Homo sapiens: one gene and its partners. The protein of the gene in region 2 interacts with the protein of the main gene of each other region in a biochemical or structural test. Each region holds a gene or a part of one and is shown on either strand. Other genes may lie near its edges.

The links.
Region 1: of the proteins of TTK (region 2) and RAD52, one has a biochemical effect on the other in vitro, tested with the Homo sapiens proteins (one study listed by BioGRID).
Region 3: of the proteins of TTK (region 2) and USP16, one has a biochemical effect on the other in vitro, tested with the Homo sapiens proteins (one study listed by BioGRID).

What each region holds. Positions count from the first base shown.
Region 1 is NC_000012.12:946,456-955,087, forward strand, and holds the start of RAD52 (DNA repair protein RAD52 homolog), read right to left. Parts: upstream 3,240-8,632; 5' UTR 3,147-3,239; exon of another isoform or gene 2,948-3,146; intron 1-2,947. UniProt on the Homo sapiens protein: Involved in double-stranded break repair. Plays a central role in genetic recombination and DNA repair by promoting the annealing of complementary single-stranded DNA and by stimulation of the RAD51 recombinase.
Region 2 is NC_000006.12:80,028,053-80,035,753, forward strand, and holds part of TTK (dual specificity protein kinase TTK), read left to right. Parts: intron 1-3,414; coding exon 3,415-3,507; intron 3,508-6,932; coding exon 6,933-7,090; intron 7,091-7,213; coding exon 7,214-7,365; intron 7,366-7,701.
Region 3 is NC_000021.9:29,034,206-29,041,906, reverse strand, and holds part of USP16 (ubiquitin carboxyl-terminal hydrolase 16), read right to left. Parts: intron 7,071-7,701; coding exon 6,967-7,070; intron 5,637-6,966; coding exon 5,533-5,636; intron 4,632-5,532; coding exon 4,444-4,631; intron 3,573-4,443; coding exon 3,477-3,572; intron 2,882-3,476; coding exon 2,751-2,881; intron 2,427-2,750; coding exon 2,339-2,426; intron 1,299-2,338; coding exon 1,220-1,298; intron 1-1,219. UniProt on the Homo sapiens protein: Specifically deubiquitinates 'Lys-120' of histone H2A (H2AK119Ub), a specific tag for epigenetic transcriptional repression, thereby acting as a coactivator.

The DNA of each region.
Region 1 (8,632 bases), on a different chromosome or scaffold from region 2:
TTTTATGTGTGCTTCTGTTTAAAGATATCTTATTTAATATATATTGTTGATGCAGTAACATGAACTCACAGCCAACAACAAAAGTGATGCCTGAACAAAGCTAATCTAAAAGCTTATCTTTTCTCTATAAGATATATCACAGCCTTCAACTTGGAAATGCTAGACAGCACTTCTATTCTTGGAGGCCCCTATAAACAGCAAAATCACCAAAAGCACAAAAATACAAAAAAACATGGCACTACGTATACAGCCAAAATAACACTTATGAACAGTTTTAGAGCTGAAACAGGAAGGCAGAGTGTCACCTTATTTGAACATAGCTGGGAAAGCATACAGTGGGTGACTCAAAATTTTTCACAACTAGTCTCTCCCACAGCTAGCTCAGTTACATTTTTCATACACTCATCTCCAACTACACCGTTTATACTACAAGATAACACGTTTTGGTGTACATTACACAACAGCAATCTCTGACGGTTTCTGCCTCCCTGAGAAGACCAGCACACAAACATTTCTCTGCTTGATACCACGATAATTAACGGCCTGGTAAGTGGTGAACTGAGAATAGAACACTTTAAAAAACACTCCCAGAGGGGCGCAGTGGCTCACGCCTGTAATCCCAACACTTTGGGAGGCCAAGGCGGGAGGATCACCTGAGGTAGGGAGTTCGAGACCAGCGTAACCAACATGGAGAAACCCCTTCTCTACTAAAAATACAAAATTAGCCGGGTGTGGTGGTGCACACCTGTAATCCCAGCTACTCGGGAGGCTGAGGCAGGAGAATCGCTTGAATCCAGGAGGCAGAAGTGGCAGTGAGTCAAGATCTCGCCACTGCAGTCCAGCCTGGGCAACAAGAGCGAAACTCTGTCCCCCCAAAAAAACAACAGACAAACAAAAAAACAAAACTCCCGCCCAGGTGTGGTGGCTCACACCTGTAATCCCAGCACTTTGGGAGGCCGAGGCGGGTGGATCACCTGAGGTCAGGAGTTTGAGACCAGCATTGCCAACACGGTGAAACCCTGTCTCTACTAAAAATACCAAAAATTAGCCTGGCATAGTGGCATGCGCCTGTAAGCCCAGTTACCGAGGAGGCTGAGAGAAACTCTGTCCCCCCAAAAAACAACAGACAAACAAAAAAACAAAACTCCCACCCAGGCGCGGTGGCTCACACCTGTAATCCCAGCACTTTGGGAGGCCGAGATGGGTGGATCACCTGAGGTCAGGAGTTCGAGACCAGCATGGCCAACATGGTGAAACCCTGTCTCTACTAAAAATACCAAAAATTAGCCGGGCATAGTGGCATGCGCCTGTAAGCCCAGTTACCGAGGAGGCTGAGATAGGAGAAGCGCTTGAACCCAGGAGGTGAGGTTGCAGTGAGCCCAGATACGCCATTGCACTCCACCCTGGGCAACAAGAGTGAAACTTCATCTCAAAAAAAAAAAAAAAACAAAAAAAAAACTGCCCTAAACGATACCAGACCTGAGGCCACTGAATTACCTGACCCAACCCAAGAGTTAAATGCTAGTTTCCAAAAACTTAAGTTTTAAATGTCTGTGCCTCAGACTGCGAGTTCTGTGGAGGACTAGACCTAGAAAGCCTAGAAAATCACCAGTATCCATCAAAAATGGAGAAACAAAATGTGGTATATCCACACAATAAATAATTCAGTTATTTAAAAAATGAAGTTGATACATGCTACATACAACATAGATGGACTTTGAATCATGAAGTGAAATAAACCAAACACAAAAGAACAAATATTGTATAATACAGTACTGAGAATGGGTAAATTCATAGATTAGTGCTGCTGGGAGTAGGAGGAAATAATGGGTGTCTGCTAATGGTTTTAAGGTTTCTTTTAGGGATGATAAAAATGTTCTGGAATTAGATAATAGTGGTGATTGCACAACCTTGTGAATATATTAAAACCACTGAATTGCACACTTTAAAAGGGTGAATTTAGACTGGGTGTGGTGGCTCACACCTGTAATCCCTGAACTTTGGAAGGGCGAGGAGTTCGAGACCAGCCTAACCAACATGGTGAAAAATACAAAGTAGCTGGGTGTGGTGGTATGCGCCTGTAATTCCAGCTACTTGAGAGGCTGAAGCAAAGAATCGCTTGAACCCAGGAGGCGGACGTTGCAGTGAGCCGAGACGGCGCCACTGTACTCCAGCCTGGGCAACAGAGCGAGACTATGTCTCCACTTTTTTTTAAAAAAGGGAGTGAATTTAATTGTACGTGAATTATAACTTTTTTTTTTTTGGATGGATTCTCGCTCTGTCCCCCAGGCTGGAGTGCAGTGGTGCGATGTCGGCTTACCGGCACACCTGCCTACTGGGTTCAAGCGATTCTCATGCCTCCGCCTCCCGAGTAGCGGGGATTACAGGCGCCCGCCACCAGGCCTGCCTAGTTTTGTATTTTTAGTAGAGACGGGGTTTCGCTATGTTAGCCAGGCTGGCGTAGAACTCCTGGCCTCAAGCGATCCTCCCGCATCGGCCTTCCAAAGTTCTGGGATTACAGGTGTGAGACGCCGCGCCAGACCTCTATCTCAATGTTATAACAAGGCTCAATACTCAGCTAAAGTGAGCGTCAAATTTTTATTTTTATTTTTTCCCCCGTGACAGGGTCTCGCTCTGTCGCCCGGGACGGAGTGTCGTGGTACGGGTGCGATCTCGGCTCACTGCAGGCTTGACCTCCAGGGAACATGGGGGCATGCCGCCACCATGCCCGGCGTCAAATTCCTTTTAAATCAATCATTTCTTCCCAGCGTCCCCCGCTCCCTGCAACTCAACTTCGTTTAGCTATTAACACAAACTTCAGATTCCCCACGCCTGTCTGCAGGCAGCATCTCCAAGGAAGCGCCACCACGGACACCTGGCTGTCCGCACCGCGGTGGGGTCCCGGCGCGTTGGTGCCAAGTTTCCTGTACCCCGCCTTCCTACCCACCTCTCGGGAGGCCCGGATACTGAGCCCCTCACTGCACTGGTGAACTAGAACAGGCCTCTGGACTCAGCATCTCTACGCTGAGACCTCAGGATCAGGTCCACCGCAGCCCCAGGTTCTCGACCCGGAAGCTGAGCCTTCCCACGCTCCACACCCACGGCTAGAACCACCCCGGGGGAAGCCGCTCTCCTCCCCCACTTACGCGCCTCGGGCAGCGCGCGGTGCACACAGGGAGCTCGATCTAGGCTATGGACAAGGGGAAGAGATCTTAGATGGAGGCCGCGCAGAGGAGAATGGGAAGGGTGCGCGAGCGTCTCTGGGAAGAAGGTCCGAACCCACGCCCAGCGCCGGAGGGGGAAAAAAAAAAACACAGACCAGAGAAGGAACCGTAAATCAAGTCGGAGGGGAAAAGAGCCGCAAAGCCTTCTGCGGCAGCCGTAAAGCAACCTGGAGGCGCGGTGCTGGCTTTTACGTTCTGAGCCGCTCGCCCTGCCGCTTCCCTGCGCGCCCTCTGCCTCCTACTTCCCGCCAGCTTCCCTCGGTCCGCGGCCGTCGGATCTCTGCTGCCCCCTGGTGGGCCTGGCGGTTTCGTCAGGCCTTCAGCGGCTAGTTAGGCCCGGGTGGTTCACACTTCACATGCCCAGTGCCCATTAGGATGCGGGGCCCGCCCACCCATGCACAATTGGGAAAATCTGAGGATGAATGGTTGTCAGAGACCTTCCCAGATTCCGCCCGGGCCGAGGCAGCGGTGGACCTGGTGGTTCTCGCGGCCTCTCACCACCGCCGCGCACATCCAGTCGTCACCGGATGGCGCCTTCGGTTAGCGACGACCGCAGGGAAATGGAGAAGTGCGGCTTGGGGGGCGAAGTCCCCTCTAGAATGTCCCCTGGGGCCGGGCGTGGTGGCTCAGGCCTGTAATCCCACCACTTTGGGACGCCGAGGCGGGCTGATCACGAGGTCAGGAGTTCGAGACCAGCCTGGGCAACATGGCGAAACCCTGTCTCTACTAAAAATACAAAAAATTAGCCGGGCGTGGTGGCGGGCGCCTGTAGTCCCAGCTACTCGGGAGGCTGAGGTAGGAGAATGGCGTGAACCCCGGGGGACGGAGCCTGCAGTGAGCCGAGATCGCCCCACTGCACTCCAGCCTGGGCGACAGAGCGAGGCTCCGTCTCAAAAAAAAAAAAAAAAGTTTTTGTAGCGACAGGGTCTTGCTATGTTGCCCAGGCTGGTCTTGAACTCCTCGCCTCAAGTGATCCTCTTGCCTCAGCCTCCCAAAGTGCTAGGATTACAGGTATGAGCCACTGCACCTAGCCCACTTATCATTCTTTTTGTGGCGAGATATTTTCAACTTACTCTCTTAGAAATTTTGAAATATACAATAAATTATTATTAACTATAGTCACTATGCTGTGCAATAAATCTCAAAATTGTATTCCTCCTGTTTAACTGTTAACTTTGTACCCTGAGACCAACATCTTCATCTCCCCATTATCTCCCCCAGCCCCTTATTCCCCAGCCTCTGGGGAATTTTTAGTAGAGACAGGGTTTCTCCATGTTGGTCAGGCTGGTCTCGAACTCCCAACCTCAGGTGATCTGCTCACCTCAGCCTCCCAAAGTGCTGGGATTACAGGTGTGAGCCACTGTGCCCAGCCAATATTGAGCATTTTTATGAACCTGTTGATCATTTGTATGTCATCTTTTGATAAATGATTTTTTTTTTAAAGAGTCAGGGTCTCAAGCTATCAAGCTGTTGCCCAGACTGTACTGCAGTGCTGCAATCATGGCTCACTGCAACCTCTAACTCCTGGGCTCAAGTGATCCTCCCACCTCAGCTTCCCAGGTAGCTGGGACTACAAGCATATGTCACCACACCTGGCTAATCTAAAATTTTTTTGTAGAGACAAGGTCTTTCTATGTTGTCCAGGCTTTTCACAACTCCTGGCCTCAAGCAATTCTCCTGTCTCAGCCTTCCAAAGCACTGGGATTACAGGTGTAAACCAGTGCACCTGGTGCCCTTTGCCCCCTTTTTAGTCGTGTGATCTGATTTTGCTATGAGTTGTTTGCTTTCTTCACATATTTAGAATAGGATAGTAACCCCTTATTGGATATATGGTTTGCAAATATTTTCTCTCACTCTGTTGTTTTCTTTGTTGTGTCCTTTCATTTCTGATTTTGGTAATTTGTGTCCTCTCCTTTTTTCACTAGTCCAGCTAGATGTTTATTAATTTTACCTGTCTTTTCAAAGAACCAGCTCATGGTTTTATTAATTACTACAATTGTTTTTCCATTTGTTTGTTTCACTGATTTTCATTGTTATCTTCATCACTTCCTTTCTTCTGCTCACTTTAGGTTTACTTTACTTTTCTTTCTTTTTGTTTCTTATGATTTTAACCTTTTTTTGTTTTAAGTAAAGGCATTTAAACTATTAAACTATAAATTTTCCTCTAAGAACTCCTTTAGCTGAATTTTATAAATTCTGAAACATAATTTTTGGGGTAAATGTATTTTAAAGTTACCTACCTGCATGTTATTGTATATATTATATTGTTTTCTTTTTTTTTATGAAAAACTTTTTTTTCTAAGAGACAGCACCTCACTCTGCTGCCCAGGCTATGGTGCAGTGGCACGGTCATAGCTCGCTATAACCTCAAATGCCTGGGCTCAAGTGATCCTCCTGCTTCAGTCTCCTAAGTAGCTAGGATTACAGAGGCTACATGCCCAGCTAAGTAAAAAAACATTTTTTTGGTGGAGGCAGGGTCTTGCTATGTTGCTCAGGCTGGTCTTGAACTCCTAGCCTCAAGCAATTCTCCCACCTTGGCCTCCCAAAGTGCTGGAACTGCAGGTGCATGACACTATGCCTGGCTAATTAAAAAAATTTTTTTTAGAGAGGGGTTCTTACTATGTTTCTCAGGCTTGTCTTAAACTCCAGGGCTCAAGCAATCCTCCTGCCTCAGCCTCCTGAGTAGCTGGGACTACAGGTGCTCACCACCATGCTCAGCTCTAAAAACTACATTTTAAAAATAGTTCCTGCTATTCTTTGTTGTGGGTTGAATTGTGTTCCTCAAAAAGACAGGTAGAAATTATAACCTCCAGTACTTGTGAATGTGACCTTAATTAGAGAGGGGTCTTTGTAGATGTAATCAAGTAGGATGAGGTCATACTCAATTCAGGATAGACCCTCTTCAATATAATTGCTGTTATAAGAAAACAGGCTGGGTTCGGTGCCTCACACCTCCCAACACTTTGGGAGGTCAAGACGAGAGGATCGCCTTGACCAGCCTGGCCAGTTCGAGATCAGCCTGGCCAACACGGTAAAACCCCGTCTCTACTAAAAATACAAAAATTAGCTGGGCATGGTGGTGGGTGCCTGTAATCCCAGCTACTTGGGAGGCTGAGGCAGGAGAATTGCTTGAACCTGGAAGGTGGAGTTTGCAGTGAGCCGAGATATAGTCATTGCACTTGAGCCTGGGCGACAAGAACAAAACTCTGTCTCAAAAGAAAGGGAACGGAAGAGAAGGGAAGGGAGGGGAAGGGGAGGGGAGGGGAGGGGAAGGGGGAAGGGAAAAGGGGAAGGGGAAGGGAGGGGAGGGGGGAGAGGGGGAGGGGAGGGGGAGGGAGGGAAGGGAGACGCCCGGGCCAGGTGGCTCACACCTGTAATCCCAGCACTTTGGGAGGGGGGCGGATCACTTGAGGTCAGGAGTTTGAGACCACCCTGGCCAGCATGTTGAAACCCCGTCTTTACTAAAAATACAAACATTAGCTGGGGATGGTGGCACATACCTTTAATCTCAGCTACTCGGGAGGCTGAGGCAAGAGAATTGTTTGAACCCGGAAGTGGAGGTTGCAGTGAGCCAAGATTGTGCCATTGCACTCCAGCCTGAGCGACAGAGTGAGACTCAGTCTCAAAAAAAATAAAAATAAAAATAAGAAAACAGAGACAAAGACAGAAGGAAGGCAGCCCTCTGAAGATGGAGGCAGAGATTGCAGTCATTATGCCAGAAGCCAAAGAACATGAGGCCACCGGAAACTGGAAGAGGCAAGGAAGTATCCTCCCCTGCTGTGAGAGCAAGCTGTCATTACTTAGTCAAATAAAGTGTATGTCTACGACCCAGTGATTCCACTCCTGTGTACAAAAAGTCCTCATACAATTTACGAAGGGACATACATGAACATATCCACTGTAGTATTATTTACTTCATAACATGGCCGTGCCAAGTTCTTTAATCTGGGACTTAGAGCCTCAAGAACTGAGAGAAGCTAAATTTCTGATGTTTTAAGCCACCCAGTTGTGGTAATTTGTTACAATGGCTTTAGGAAACTAACACAATGTGATTTCTAATCCATCGTGCCTGCCTGCCACAGCATTTCCCATGGTGTACATCCACCATATTTCGCCCATCTACCTTCCCCACTGTGAACATCATAAATAATACTACAGTGAACATATTCCTACATGTTCCTTTATAAACTGTGTGAGAGCGTTCCGTACACACAGCAGTGGAACCGTTGGGTGACAGACGTCTATTTTATTTGCCTGAGTAATGACAGCTTGCTCTCCACCGCCCTTGCATGAGGGTTCCTGTATGTCCACACCCCTGCCAATTCTTGACATCATGCTGATTCACAACTTTCGGCAGTGTAATGAGTGTGAAATGTTATCTTTTTTAAAAAAATTATATTTCTGATTACTAATGATTTTAAGCACTTCCTGTGCATGCTCAGTTTTTGGTTTTCTGGTTTTTTAATTGGCTGTTCATATCATTCACCCATTTCTGTATGTAGTCATTACCTTTTTCTTGTTGATGTGAAGGTATTCTTTGAAATTCTAGATATTAATCTCTTGTCAGATTTTGACTTTGTAAATATCTTCTCTTACTCTGTTAGCTGCTTATTAACTTTGTCCATAGTGTCATTTCCTAAACAGAAATCCTTAAATTTTTTACAATAACAGGCTGGGCGCGGTGGCTCACGCCTGTAATCCCAGCACTTTGGGAGGCCGAGGTGGGTGGATCACTTGAGGTCAGGAGTTTGAGACCAGCCTGGCCAACATGACAAAACCCTGTCTCTACAAAAAATACAAAAATTAGCCAGGTGTGGTGACACGCACCTGTAATCCCAGCTACTCGGGAGGCTGAGAGGCATGAGACTTGCTTGAACCCGGGTGGTGGAGGTTGCATTGAGCTGAGATCGTGCTGCTGCACTACAGCTTGGGCGACAGAGCAAGACTTCATCCCCCACCCCCCAAAAAATGTAATAACAGTCATAGATATTTTTCCTTATTGATTAATCCTTTTAAAATTGTATTTAAAATCTCTTTCTGGTTGTAGGTTGCAAAAATACTGACTTACATTTTTCTATCAAAATTCTAAATTAAGCCTTGATAGAGTACTCTTTTTAATTGGATCTTTCATTTAGAATTTTCCTTGATACATGGCATTGGTTAGGGATACATTAGGGACATATCTAAAGCATTCCAGTTATGCAACTTTTTAATTCTGTGACCAGTGAGGAAAGGGGATTCTTTTCCCTAGATCCAATTTGAAAAATTACAGAGAAAGACTCTGACTCACTGGATTGGGTTGCATGCCCATTATTATGGCCCAATTAGCAAGATGCCTTACTAAGTGCTAGGCAGACAAAACAATATTCACTACAGGGGTGATAAGGTAAATAAACACATTAATTAGA
Region 2 (7,701 bases):
GTCCGTTTTACAGCTTTTATTTTTATAGCATCTAGTTATCAAGAAAGGTCTTAAGAACTTGGCCATTCTTATTTCCACTAGACAAAACTTTTCTGATATTCTAATAAGAGTGTGCCTTGTGGCTTTGAGAGGTTGGTTATTGAAGAAGCTTACGAAGCTACTCTTAATAACTAGGCCAAAGGATCCAGTTTGAATAGCTGGATAAAATTTCTCTTATGAATCAAGGTTACCTTTTATTTTTTATTTTTATTTATTTATTTATTTATTTATTTATTTATTTTTTGAGACAGAGTCTCGCTCTATTGCCCAAGCTGGAGTGCAGTGGCGCGATCTCGGGTGACTACAACCTCTGCTTCCCAGGTTCAAGCGATTCTCGTGCCTTAGCCTCCCGAGTAGCTGAGATTACAGGCACGCACCACCACACCTGGCTAATTTTTGTATTTTTACTAGAGACAGGGTTTCACCATGTTGCTCAGGCTGGTCTCAAACTCCTGGCCTCAAACCATCCGCCCGCCTCAGCCCCCCAAAGTTCTGGGGTTACAGGCATGAGCCACTGCGCCTGGCCAGCGTTACTTTTTGTTGTGTTTTGTCAGCTGCTAGTGAGCAGCTTCATTTTGTTTGTTAGTATACAATTCATTTGGAAATGTAAATTTTCAAAAATATCAGAATAGCAATATGAGGTACTGCTAGAATGTATTATACTAATAACTAAACTAAGAGGAAAGATTTTTTGCTGATGAGGCAAAAGTTGGTTTCTAGTAACTGTCCTAGAGGCAGCTTAATACTGGTAGAAAACATGGGCCTTGGAGACACTGGGCATGAATCTTAGCCTCACTACTTACAGTCTGTGTGATCTTTTGCAAGTTACCTAAATTTTCGGTGCCCATTTCATTATCTATAAAATTAGTAAAGCTAACTACCTCCTAGGATGGTTGTGAAGATTAAATTAGTTAATATAGACGTAACTCCTAATACAGAGCATGACACTTAGTAAATCAGAAATGTTAGTAGCAATTGTTATTTAAATAAAACAATAAAAAACCCATGAGTAATTAACTATAAAAATCAACTGATAAAAAAATTAGCTGACAGAATAAGAACAGTGGTTGTCAGGGAAGGGAGGAAGAATGGGGAGTTACTGTTTAATGGGTATAGAGTTTCAGTGGTATTTGCACCACCATCCATCACCAGAACTTTTTCATCATCACATACTGAATGTACTTAATGCCACTGAATTGTACCTAAAAATGGTTAAAGTGGTAAATTTTGCATTATGTATAATTTGCACAGTTTGAAAGAATAATGGACAAAATAATGAGCTGACAGTAGATACTAACTGGAAAGAGGTGATAGTGTTTTAAGGATTGAAACAATATAATAAATTACAAAGGAAAAACAAAAATGATCCAGTTTGTTCATGCATTGATTCAAAACACATTTATTTAGCTATTACTAGTGTCAGGCCCTGTTTGAGTTGCAATCCAGAAGACGAGTCACAGATGACAAGTGAAGGGGCTTGGTGGAGCCTTCTAGAAGAGGCCAGTGTCAGAAGAGAACTGAAACGAGGCCACAGTGTGGCTAGAGGTCAGGAAGGGGAAGGAGTGAGGCCCAAGGTTTGCTGGGCCCTTAAGTTTTACCCTAAGAGGGTGGGAAGCTTTGGAAGAGGTTGAAGCAGGGAAGTGAAATGATCCAATTTGCATTTTGGAAACTCTAACCACAGTGAGTAGGGCATACTAAGGGGGATGCGGGAAGTCCTGTGGAGGAAACCAGAGTTCACATTAGTGTTGAGTCAGAAATAAGAATTACTTTATTCTAAAAACTGTCAGCAGCCGTGGAGAAAGGACATTGAACTGCTTTCTTCCCTTGGCAATGTTCACAGTTTTAAATATGAAAGGAAGAAGACAGAGAAGGCACAAAAGGAGGAGTGGGGAAACCTTGATGAAATTACAACACATACATGTTTAGAAGCCCAATACTTTGTTACAGGAAATATATATAGACAATGTATCTCAATCCTAGAGGTGAAAAAATTAGAATACTTATCTTTTTATTTAAATAGGAGATTACATGAGAGATTCTACCATTTGGAACCTAAAGCAGGCCTTAGTTAAATTGAGGTTTATTCAGACCTTGTTTAACTTGGTTAATCAGCTAATCAGGAGGTCTTTTTGTTTCACCTTCTTTATCAGCTCAGAATAAGTCCTCTCAGCACTCCATCTGTTCAAAGCATTTATAGGTACACAGAGAGATCCTCCAATATAAGGGAAGGAATGATGGGGCTGGTTGTATAGTACATCAACTGAAAGTTTGCTGGGGAAGACGCTGAGGTTCTGAAAAATTAAGTAACTTGTTGAACATCACTCAGGACAAAGTTGGGGGCTGTATTAATGAGTTCTTACACTGCTATAAAGAAAAGAGGTTTAATTGGCTAATGGTTCCACAGGCTGTACAGTAGGCATGATGCTGGCAATCTGGTTGGCTTCTGGGGAGGCCTCAGGAAACTTTCAATCATGGCAGAAGGTGAAAGGGAGCAAATGTCACATGGCTGGAGTGGGAGGGAGAGAGAGAGTTGGGGGCAGATGCCACATACTTTTAAATGACCAGATCTCTTGAGAACTCTCAGAGAAGCACTGAGGAGGAAATCTACCCCCATGATTCAGTCACCTCTCACCAGGCCCCGCCTCCAACATTGGGAATTACAATTTGACATGAAATTTGACAGATCCAAACCATATCAGGGACATTGCTGAAATTTGCATTTGTCTCATTGACTTTGGAGCTCTTAGCACCTTAGCACATTGCTTCCTTTATAATATAACGCTAAATGAGAAAGAAGAATACAGATATAGCCGGATGGTAGTGGCATGCCTGTAATCCCAGCTACTCGGGAGGCTGAGGAGAAGAATCGCTTGATCCTGGGAGGCAGAGGGTGCAGTGAGCCGAGATCATGCCACTGCAGTCCAGTCTGGGAGGCAGAGTGAGATGCTGTCTCAAAAAAAAAAAAAAAGAAAAGAATGCAGCTATAATTATGTGTGTGTATATGTACATATGTAAGTAAAGAGGTATAAGGAAAAAGAATAGAAAAGAAAAATGAAAAATATAATTTTATATTTTATTTTTATATATATTTTTAAGCTTATAAGTTTGCAGATTGCATATTAAGTGGTTTTTTCCTCCTTAAATTTTCTTTTTAAGTCAAAACTAGTTAAAGGGGGAGACCTTGGAAGTTTGTCTACATTATTTTTTAAGGTTTTTTTTCTTTGATTAAGTAGAGCAAGTCCTTTTAAAAATATTGTAACATTTCTAATTAAGATTTAAGATAATTTCAAAATGGGGAGCAGTTGACTGTACCAAATGTAAGCTAGTTTCTTAGGTATATTGATTAACTTTTATTTATATATTTTACTTATTTAGGTTTTAGCATCTTCTTCAGCAAATGAATGCATTTCGGTTAAAGGAAGAATTTATTCCATATTAAAGCAGATAGGAAGTGGAGGTTCAAGCAAGGTAAGTATCTTAAAATATTTACGAAATAAATAAAAATATTTTAAACTTTCTGTTTTTTTGTCTTTTTACCTGTGAGGGCTGCTTTTCCTTTACTTCTAGGGGCGATGCTGCCCTTGAGCCAAAAAGCCATCTTAACACCTGCCTTTCTCTTCCCGCTGCCCCTCACATGTGACATATCCTCTTTAGATCTCTTATTCCCAGTCTTCTGCCTTTCCTTTCAATGTCCTGTGCTTCTAAACTTCTTCTTTAATAACAAAAACATTGACATGGGGTAGCGAATGACCACTATGTATTATCACAAAAGAATCAGAAATTTCTGAGTCAGAATGTGATGTAAATTGCTAATATGTTTAGAATCATTCAGCAAGGATTTTTACTAATGGATTTTGTTTTCTTTTGAGTTATTCATTTCAGAAACAGAATTCAGTAACAAATGAATTTCTGGAATTAGATTATTTTCTAAATTTACCTGAGTTCTAAATTTATATCGTTTTACATCTCTGGATAGAAGGCATCTTAAGCATTATCTAAATTTACCATCATTAATTGTCATTCAATTAAATCTACTTCCATTAGATTTTTGCCTTCATCACTCACCAGAATAACTGTAATCAAGAACACTAATGACCTCCATTTTTTTGCCAAATCTAATTCTTAGCTTAGATTTTGGATTACTTAGCATTTGGGACAACTGATTTTTTTTTTCGCAGTGAAGCTTTTTTCCGCACTTGGTTTGTGTTTTTCTCTTCTCAAACTGTCCATACCTATTGTCTTCTTCGTGTTACTGATCTCAGTGAAGCACTGCTCCGGGCTTAGTCCTCAGCATTCTTTCATCTTTTTCTTAAACTCATTCATTGGTGTTCTCTTTCAATCTTGTGGTTTCAAATAACATGTGTATGCTGACAATTCCCAAACTTGTATTTCCAGCTCATACCTCTCCTTTGAATTCCAGACTTGTATATTCAACATCGCTTCTTAGTGTCTACCAGGCATTTAAAACAATATGTCCAAACACAACTCTTGCTCCATAGCTTTTCCCATTTGAGTAAATGGCAGCTTCATTCTTCCAGTTGATTGAACAAAAAATTGGTGCCTCTTACTCTCATACACATATCTAGCCAATCAGCAGATCTTGTTAGTTCTACTTCAAAGTATCTCTAGAATCTATTTCTCACATCTCCAGCATTATTATTTTGGTCAAGGCAACTTTTGTATTTTCACCTAAATTACTTTAATAGCCTCCTAAAGGAATTCATTTACTCAGTCCTTGCCCTCCTGGTCTATTTTTTTAAATTGTATATTGACAAATTAGAGTTGTATATTTTTATGGGGTACAAAGTGGTATTAGCTTTTTAAATACAATATGAAATGATTAAGCTAATTAACATCTATTACCTCAATTATTTGTGTGTAATGAGAACATTAGCAATTGACTCTCTGCAATATTGAAATGTATAATATCCAATTATTATTTTCAGCATGCTATGCTAATCATCTAAAAAAAATCAAACTTGTTTCTCCTATTTGAGGCTTTGTATCCCTTCACCAACATCTCCCCATTTCTCTCAACCTCCAGCCTTTGGTAACCACCATTGTCAAAGGTAGTATGAGCTCTGCTCTATGAGTTTAATTTTTAGATTTCGCATATAAGTGAGAACATGAGGTATTTGTCTTTCTGTATTTAGCCTATTTCAGTTCCTCCTGGCTTATTTTAACATGACATCCTATTTTCCTCTAGATATCCTCATGTGTCTTCTCAGTTAGGCCTTCCTTGCCCACACTGTAAAACTTCAACTCCCACCTTTCAATCACCAGTGTTCTCCATTCCCCACCGGTTTGTTTTTCTCTGTATCTTACCTTCTAACATGTTCTGTAATTTACTTATTTGGTTTGTTGTTTGTGTCCCTCTGCACTTGAATGTGAGCTCCATGAAGATAGGGATGTTTTTCTGATTTGCTCAGTGATATTAGCCCCTGCATCCAGAACAGTACCTAGAACAGATAGGGATTGAATTTATTAGTTGAATTGAGTAAACTGTCTGTCCTCAGCTCTTTTGCTATTGTAAGTTGTTAAGGATGACACATTAAACAGACATTGTTGGACTCATTTTAAGTTTTACTGTAATTTCCTAATCCCACTAACAATAATTAGAATTGCATAAGGCTGTCTTATTAACTTACCAAAAATAAGGTATGTGCATTACCATGTGTATCAACTCTTCAATAAATATTGGTTTCATTATACATTTCCTTTTATCAATCTATTTGAATTACCTAATTTAATTGCTTTCGTAGAAATTACTTGGTTAATATTTATTATTTATTTGTTTTTTGGCTATATTTTAGTAGTATCAAGGTATTGAGACTTAATAGAGGTATTTATTTACTTGTATGTTTTCAGAGAATGTAGAGTAGTCTTAATGGCATTTTAACATTTTTTTCCTTGGAGTATAATGAAGGTGTAAGCTTACTTAAGTCAAGGGCCAAGTGATAAAGCAATGGCTGGCCCATATTTTCTGAATTCAATTAAATTATCATTTAAGTTAATTATGATAGAGTTGAAAAAAATCAAATGCCTCAAAGAAAGTAACATGCTTTATGAAACTAATACCATTTATGCTTTGCCTGTTTCAGAGTTTAGGCAGTGACCAACTTTTAAGGAGGCTATTGAGAGTATCTAGAACAGTCATGGGGTAATGAGAATGGTCAAGACACTGGTAACTTCCCATAAAACTAACAAATCACAACTCTGACACTATCTCTATGAAACTGAAATAAGGCTTACCTAAACCGGATTGCAAGAGTTTTGCCAGAACAGAGACAGTGGGGGCAATAATAAACTCATTCATGCAAAAATTGCTAAATCTAGGCACAATAGAGAAAACAACATCTGTGAATTGAATTGACTCTGTATCATAGCCTTTAGTCATCCTTAACTTTTTTATTTTTCCTTGAGACCGTGTCTCACTATTTTGCCGAGGCTGGACTCAAACTGCTGGGCTCAAGCAATTGTCCCACCTCAGCCTTCTGAGTAGTTGGGATTAAAGGAGCAAACTACTGCACCAGGCTTGTCCTTAACATTTTGGAAAGTCTTTTTCTTTATGCTGTTTCCCTGTTTAGGGCATCCAACAGATTGTTATATATATCTGAAGTTTAAACTTTTCTTACATGTTGATATAGAAACTTTAGATTTATACCTTTAAATTATTGAATGCCCATCATCATAGGTCATTGGGAATGGACTGTTACTCTGCTATCAGAATTATTTTTCTTCCTTCTACACTCAAAATAGGCCCAGAAACTTTTAATGTTCATGTCAGTATTTCCTTTAGAATTTTCTCAACCTAAAATCCTAATAAATTTAGAATCATTGTGTGATAGTGTATAAATAGTATATTCTAAACTTCTCTTTGTTCTACTCTGTAGGTATTTCAGGTGTTAAATGAAAAGAAACAGATATATGCTATAAAATATGTGAACTTAGAAGAAGCAGATAACCAAACTCTTGATAGTTACCGGAACGAAATAGCTTATTTGAATAAACTACAACAACACAGTGATAAGATCATCCGACTTTATGATTAGTAAGAATTCTTTTTAAATTTAAAAAGAAAACTTTTTGCCATAATTCTTCAGGTAAATATTTAGTAAACTTTAATATAACCTAGCCATTTATTGTTTTGTTGCTTTTATTTGTTTAATTGCAGTGAAATCACGGACCAGTACATCTACATGGTAATGGAGTGTGGAAATATTGATCTTAATAGTTGGCTTAAAAAGAAAAAATCCATTGATCCATGGGAACGCAAGAGTTACTGGAAAAATATGTTAGAGGCAGTTCACACAATCCATCAACATGGTATTTAACAGTTTTTTTATATTTGTAAGGTTAAAATCTTTGTTAATAGTGTCATCTTAGAGAAATATACCTATAATTTTAGGGCATTGGTTATTGGTGTCTTTAACGAGATCAACTAAATAATTAGAAGTTTATTTAAAGATAAAGGAACAAAACCATTTCTTAAAACACCGTTAACCCAAAGGATATAGGACATCAACTCAAGTTCCGACATCTGTAATACAAAATGTATTTTTCTCAGTATTAACGTAGTCTGTCATCCTTATCTCCAAATACTTGGATTATAGCAGGTCTAAGACTTTGGGGTTCAGGCATCCTGAAAATATGAGATGTTTA
Region 3 (7,701 bases), on a different chromosome or scaffold from region 2:
TTTCCTGTCCCACAGACTTCTTCCTCCATTCATAATCACCTTTTTTAAGCAATAGAAGTCAGTATTATATATTCCACCTCTGAGCATAACATAATTGAACACAATCGCCTTTTATGAATAAGACAAAAAAGTCCTTATCCAAGATCTAGTCAGTGGGAAGTAAACTGTGCAAGTCAGTGAGACTTCTATGTCTTTCTCTCTCTCTCCATTAGTATAAAATGAACAGCTCAGAGTAGGCTGAATGACAGCCTAGTTCCTTAGTTCTAGCTCTAACATTCTAACATTCAAGACTGATAAAAGATACCAGAGTAGCAAACTGGGAGAGAAAATGCATGTAACTTGTTTTGTGAACTCTAAGACTGAACTCCTTTGATATTTTAAAAACAAAAGAAAAACCTCAGGAAAATATTTCAAACAAAATCTTCCTTTTATTTTCCTATGCTCCCAGAAATAATCTTGATAAGTTTAATATAACTAAAAGCCATAATTTTACTACTTGATCAGCCAATTTTCCAAATACGTGAAACCTATAAGCATTATTCAAATGATAATTTATGCAGAACCACACTTTTCTGACAGAAAATGCCAGCAGGGGTAATTCTCTCCATTACTGGCCAGGCTCTAAAGGGCACCAAGGAGGCAAAGAGTTGCTATGAGTTGATTCAAATCTGTGCTTTATAATACAGTGCCCTTAGTCACTTACGGCTATTTAAATTTAATTACAATTAAATAAAAATAAAAATGTAGTTCCTCAGTTTCACCAGTCACATTTCAGGCGCCACACGTGCCTAGTTGCTTCTATATGGAACAGCAAAGGTATAGAGGAGTTCCATCAACATAGGAAGTTCTACTGGGCAGATCTGCCCTAAATCTTTACACGCCACATAATAAGAACTAAGTTGGCTCCATGATTAATAAACCAACTACTGACAACTCACAGTAACAAATATAATTCATGTATTACTGCTAATTATAATTTTAAGCTTTTGAAAAGTAAAACTGTAATTCATCATAGTTCTATCTTTAATACATAAAAAGAATACACCATGGGGTAAAACTGTTCACTTCTGGAGCACTGAATAATTTTTACTAATCAACGTTGATAAAGAGAAATTATACATTAATAATTGTGGACTTGGAAATATATGTGCCAGCAATCTTGTCCTAAGGTACAGAGGAATTCAACTATAGTGTTTTAGTTCAAAAAGTCAGACATTACCTTTAACTTTATTTTTTAGTTCTTCATCCAACTTTTCAGTAGAATTACCAAATGCTTTAAGTATTCCTTTACTCACTCTCTAAAAGTAATAAAATGGATATATATATACTATTAAATTTTAAATTTTATTTTCCTTAGAAATATGTAATCAAGTCAAGAAAGTGATCAGGATACAGCTCCCCATATTTACTAAATAATTCCAAAATCACATTTTCAAACTTAATTCAAGGAGCTAAAAAGGAATTATGTCACAAAGCAATCACTAACCATTGAATAAAGGTATTATCTTATCATTTCAAGATCTTAAACCTCTTCAAGCCAAAGGTTTTCAGAACATGCCCACCACCTTTGAGAAGAAACTGAAATAGCTTGTCCTACAAGCACAATGATTACATGACAGCCACAGGGTCTGACTCCAGTGCTTAAAGCCCAGCTCCATTATTTCTGGGGGACCTTAAACTAGGTACTGAACTTCTCTACAGCCTAGATTCTCAATCTATGGAATAGGAAAAAATCACAGTATCCACCTCACAGAAACTTTGTGAGAACGAAGTAAGGGAATTAATACAAAACACTGAAAACAGTGATTGGCATAAAAATAAGTGCGAAATAAATATTAGTTATTATCACTATTATTAGTACTCATTAATTCATACCCCAAATACATTTTTTTATATCCTGGCAAGTAACAAAAATTTTAAAATGCAACCAATGTTCCCTGACTCTTACAAAATGAAAATACTTCCTAGGTTCAAAAAACAGTATTAAATCAGACTCAGAATTAAAAGTAAGGGTGTGCTGCACCTGGGTTTGGGAGAAACAATTTCCAATATTTGGCAGCTCTCTTCGTATAGGTTAGTACAACAGAATCTTTAAAGAACATTAATGCTGTAAACATCAACTAAACTTAAGCCATCATGAGAAAGAGAATTACTGCTAATTCTCTGGATTCATTCTAATGGTGAAAACATACTAGTTGAAAAAGCTGGTGTAAGAAAAAATTTTAAAGTATGATGGCCTTAATAACTAGCTTTCATTGTTTTAACTCGTAAGATATCAAATGAGACAGAAAGCTTATGAAGATAAGATCATAAAATACAATGGTCATAACATGCTAACTTGGTGTTCTTCTGCTCTCATCCCATCCAATAAGTAGCGAAGCAGCTCCTGGCTGTCTTGCTGCTGATAGCCTTTAAACCGCACTGCTCTAGAGAAAAACAAAAAGACAGAAAAGCAATCTTCAGTCTACTAAGCTCTGAAGCTATTTTTAGAAAATCTTAGGATCATATCCCAAATCTCAGAGAGTTCTGGTTTCTACAAATTTCCGTTTAGTCCATTAACACCCTTGGGAGATTTAACTATCACATAAAATATATTTTAAAATCCAAATGAAAAAAAACTATGCCTTTTGTATATAGAGGGTTGACTAAATGTAATGCTATTAATATTTTTATATTTTACTATTTAATATTAATATTATTTCTCAGCATCTCACTGAGGCACTGAAAGCACAATCGAAGTGGATACTCACTTTTTACAGACCTGAGAAAAGAGTTCTTTCGGTGTCACAACCCCCTTTTTGGTCTCTTGCATCTCATTAAGAAACTGGCTCATGGCTAAAGTAAGAGGGCCTGGAGGCTCAAGGTTTATTTCTAATGGTTCCTGAATATGGGAAAAGAAATTACTTTCTTCAGTCAAATTCTGGAATCACTGACTTTACTAAAATCTAATTAGTTAACATATACTACCAATGTTCCTGACAGAACTGCCCCATTTAAAAGTTTAAAATGTACATCAAAAGAGATAGAAACTGTTTGGTCACAGACTGTCTTATGCAGAATTCAGCTCTACTATTTTAGTTTTAGATTATCTGGAACACTTACTACCTAAGAATTGAAAGAGCCAAAGCAAAATGTAAATAATAAAAATGGATAAGGTAATATTTATTTGGTTACACAGCTCTTAAGTCACCTTAAAGATGTTAAAAATAATAATGTAAGCCTAAGGCTTCTCAAACATATACACATTCCCAAGAAGGAAGCTTAACACTCGAGCATAGAAAAACAGAGCACACACACAGCAAACAGATGTAATGCCTCCTTATAACTTCTATTAGCCTGAAACTGTTTAAGTTAGTAGCCTAAAGTAAAACAAAACAAACAAAAACAGTGGAAATGAGTGTCAGTTATTTAAAATAATTTAGAAAACACACATTCAGAGAGGAAAGTTACAGACTAGAAAAGTTTAAAGAACATACTGTTAATGCCAAATCAGGTGGTTCAATTTTTACAATTGTTCCAGACATTTTCACTTCTTTTAGTAGTTCTCTAAGCACTGGTGTTTGTGACAAGTTCTAGAATGTAGGGTGAAAAAAAAAGAGAAAAATTATTTAAAGGCAAATCAACTCTGACACTTCTTAAGTGTCTATTCTATCAAAACAGAAAATCATGACCAACACTGAAAACTCTATACTTGGAAAATGAAAAGTTACAGATGCTTCTCTCCCTACTCTATTTGGGTCATAACTACTTCAGTTCTGAGCTTATTCATCACCTCAGTGGGGCATTCTCCCACCACCCAATCAGAAGTAGCTATCCCCAATCCTCCACCATGACTCTCTCACAACCACTTACCACTACCTGTAGGTACGTATTTGCTTCTATATGAGGTTATCCTGTGTTTCCTCCACCCAAGTGCAAGCTCCATGAAAGAAGCAGCAATATTTCTTTCAAACCCACTGCACCCGAGTGCTCACCAAACTCTCTTACTGTCATGCAATAAAACTTTCCTTAAGTTTTCTTTGGCCAGGCATGGTGGCTCACGCCTGTAATCCAAACACTTTGGGTGGCCAAAGGGGGTGGACGGCTTAAGCCCAGGAGTTCAAGACTAGCCTAGGCAACATGGCGAAACCCTGTCTCTACAAAAGATACAAAAACTAGCTGGGAGTGGTGGCGCATGCCTGTAGTCCCAGCTACTCTGGAGGCTAAGGTAGGAGGACTGCTTGAGCCCAAGAGGTAGAGGCTGCAGTGAGCCACGATCGTGCCACTGCACTCCAGCCGAGTGACAGAGTGAGACCCTGTCTCAAAAAAAAAAAAAAAAAAAAAAAAAGTTTTCTTTGGATACATAGAAATAAATTACTCAGGTGGAAAAAACTCAATAATGTAAGTAGCAGATTCTATGAGGAAAAGGACAGCTTTTTTAAAGGGAAAAAAATGACAATGTACCTGCATAACTGCATTGAAGAAACATGTGTTTCCCAAATTACTGAGTCCTTTCACGGTTATTTGGCAAGGAGAATTCATGGGAGGATTCTCTTTAGCCATGTTTTCCTTCTTTTCTCTCTCTTGTTCATTCTTACTCTCTTTTTCTAATTTTTTATTTTCAAGTTCAATATTTCCATTATCTTTCTCTGCTTTAAAAAAAGAAAAGATTTAGCAAAATGTGTAATACAGTCATATCGAATGCAGAAGTATACTTGGGAAACAGTACTAGAGTTTGTGAGTTTACCTGAAGTCATTCTTTCCAACCCACCCACCCATTTGATTTTAAATAGATACAGGTAAATTGCCATCCAGAAAAAAAACACAAAACCCAGTAAACAAAAAATACTCAGACCTAAAGTAAGCATTAGTTTGATAAATGAAACCAAACAGTATGTGCTTTGGTATAAATCTCCCTTTTTTACTGCACGAAAATTCTTTACAAATGAACACATCTTACCTTGTGAAATTAAGAATATAAAACAATCAAGAACATGGACATGAAATAAATTTTTTAATGAATTCTGTGGGTCAAAAATCAATCCTAAAGTAAAAAACAAATAATTCTGGCTCTGACAAAGATACTTGTGACAATAAAAACTTAAAAAACATGCTTAAAGCAAATGCTGTATGTCAGCCAATTAATTTAATTATGCATGGAAAGAACCTAAGAAATATCTGACCATTAGAAGGAATCACAAATGCTTTATGTTATCCCAGCAGACAGACTGAAATCTTGCTATTACAAAATGTACGACAGTAAGAACAGTGTAAGGCAGGTCTATAGTAAGCCTGGCTAGGGTTATGGGAATTACCTTAGTCTTAGCATTAATGGCCATTACCTTAGTCTATGGCCTTCATCACATCTGACTAGATCATTTCTCATATCCCTTCTAATACCTTATAGTTAAACCAAAAATAGTTTCATAGTTTGCAATCAACCATAACTAATGTTACTCAGCTGTATGTAATGCTAGGTAGTATAACAAATCTAAGTATCAGCAGATACACAAATCGACATTTGGTGTATATTAAAGAAACAAATTATTTTACCTGGCTTTGGAGTTGTAATGCTGGCTTGTTTTCTGACATAATCAACCACTTGACCCAACTGGTTTGAACTACAATACTGGACCTCATTATCACATACGTAACACCTGTGACCCAAAAATCAGAGATGAAAAATGACAAAATGACAACTAAAAAGGGGGAGACAAATAATAATTCCTGGAATCAAAGTGTGTAACTGCCAACTTATTCTATTAAAGAAACCGAACGTAAAAATTCTGTTTTCCTGAAGAAGACTATGCATATTAACTCTGGTTTATTATTAATAAAATTAGCCAGAATTATGGCTGCATATAAGTAGTATGATGAAATACTCCAAACGTTTTACTTTACTGGTTATAACATTGAAGTCAAAAGATTGTTTACATATATTTTAAAATACAGAATAACACTAACAAAAATAACAACTTTTTTTTGTTTGTTTTGTTTTTTGGTTTTTTTTGAGACGGAGTCTCGCTCTGTTGCCCAGGCTGCGTGCAGTGGCAGGATCTCGGCTCACTGCAACCTCCAGCTCCCTGGTTCATGCCATTCTCCTACCTCAGCCTCCCGAGTAGCTGGGACTACAGGCACCCACCACCATGCCCAGCTACTTTTTTTTTGTATTTTTAGTAGAGATGGGGTTTCAACGTGTTAGCCAGACAAAAGTAACAACTTTTACAATTGAAAGATGCCATTCAAGCCAGGCACGGTGGCTCATGCCTGTAATCCCAGCACTTTGGGAGGCTGAGGCATGCGGATCACAAGGGGATCACGAGGTCAGGAGTTTGAGACCAGCCTGACCAACATGGTGAAACCCCGTCTCTACTAAAAATACAAAAATTAGCCGGGCGTGGTGGTGCATCCCTGTAATCTCAGCTACTCGGGAGGCTGAGGCAGGAGAATTGCTTGAACCTGGGAGGCGGAGGTTGTGGTGAGCCGAGATCACACCACTGCACTCCAGCCTGGGCGACAGAAAGATTCCGTCTCAAAAAAAAAAAAAAGATGTCATTCAGTGAAGACTACTGTGAAAATGATTTTTAAGACGTAAAAATCTGTTTTAATGATGTTACAATGCAGCATCTATAACATACCAGACTGACATTTATTTTCATGCAAATTCATAGCCAAAATTTTATTACAATTTTATCTGAAATTTGTTCTTAGCGTCCCTATCTCCACTATATGCCTTATAATATCACAAGCAAGAAAAACAAAGGGGTAAAGATTCTTAAGTCTTCTATGTTACAATGTTTGTGCTTGTGCAAACGTCCAAGTAAAAGCTTCTCATAATACTGCATTCTTTAGCTTTGTGAAAGTGATGGTATTTTAAAACATACTACAAAAATTTTAAATTGCTTTCTTCTTAAACATATTTAAACATTTCCATTCTCTAATATTTCAAATAATTTCCACCCAAGAGGCAGAGGAACTGAAACTCACCATACACTCCAGTTGTCCAAACTAAGAACCAGACAGTGAGGTTCAGATCTTGGCGTCAGATAGTGCTTCAAGGCATGCTGCTCCTGAGAATTTCTGCCACAGCCCTAAAAAAATCATAATCATAAACCTCAAAGCCATAAAAACTCAGCAAGAGGGGAGAATGCATAATCTATCATAAACAAGGAAGTGGCTCATGAAATTCTGCCATTCTTACAATCTTGAAAAGAAAATGTTAGACTCTAGAATCAATATTTTGTTAAAACTTACATATGCACAGGCAACTGAGAACATTTAAGTCAACAAGTATTTAGAAAACCATGCACTCGCTAGGCGCGGTGGCTCACACCTGTAATCCCAGCACTTTGGGAGGCTGAGGCCAGGGGTGGGATCACCTGAGGTCAGGAGTTCGAGACCAGCCTGACCAACATGGTGAAACCCCATCTCTACTAAAAATACAAAAATTAGCCGGGTGTGGTGGCGCACATCTGTAATCCCAGCTAATTAGGAGGCTGAGGCAGGAGAACTGCTTGAACTCAGGAGGCGGAGGTTGCAGTGAGCCAAGATCACGTCTGGGCCTGCACTCTAGCCTGGGCAACAAGAGCAAAAACTCCATCTCAAAATAAAAAAAAAAAAAAAAAGAAAACCATGCACTCAAAGTACTCTTCTTGTCCAACTTTCCAGCCCAGATTAAACCACACTAATGCAGTCAAGTCTGGTTTGGATTCCTTAACAGTC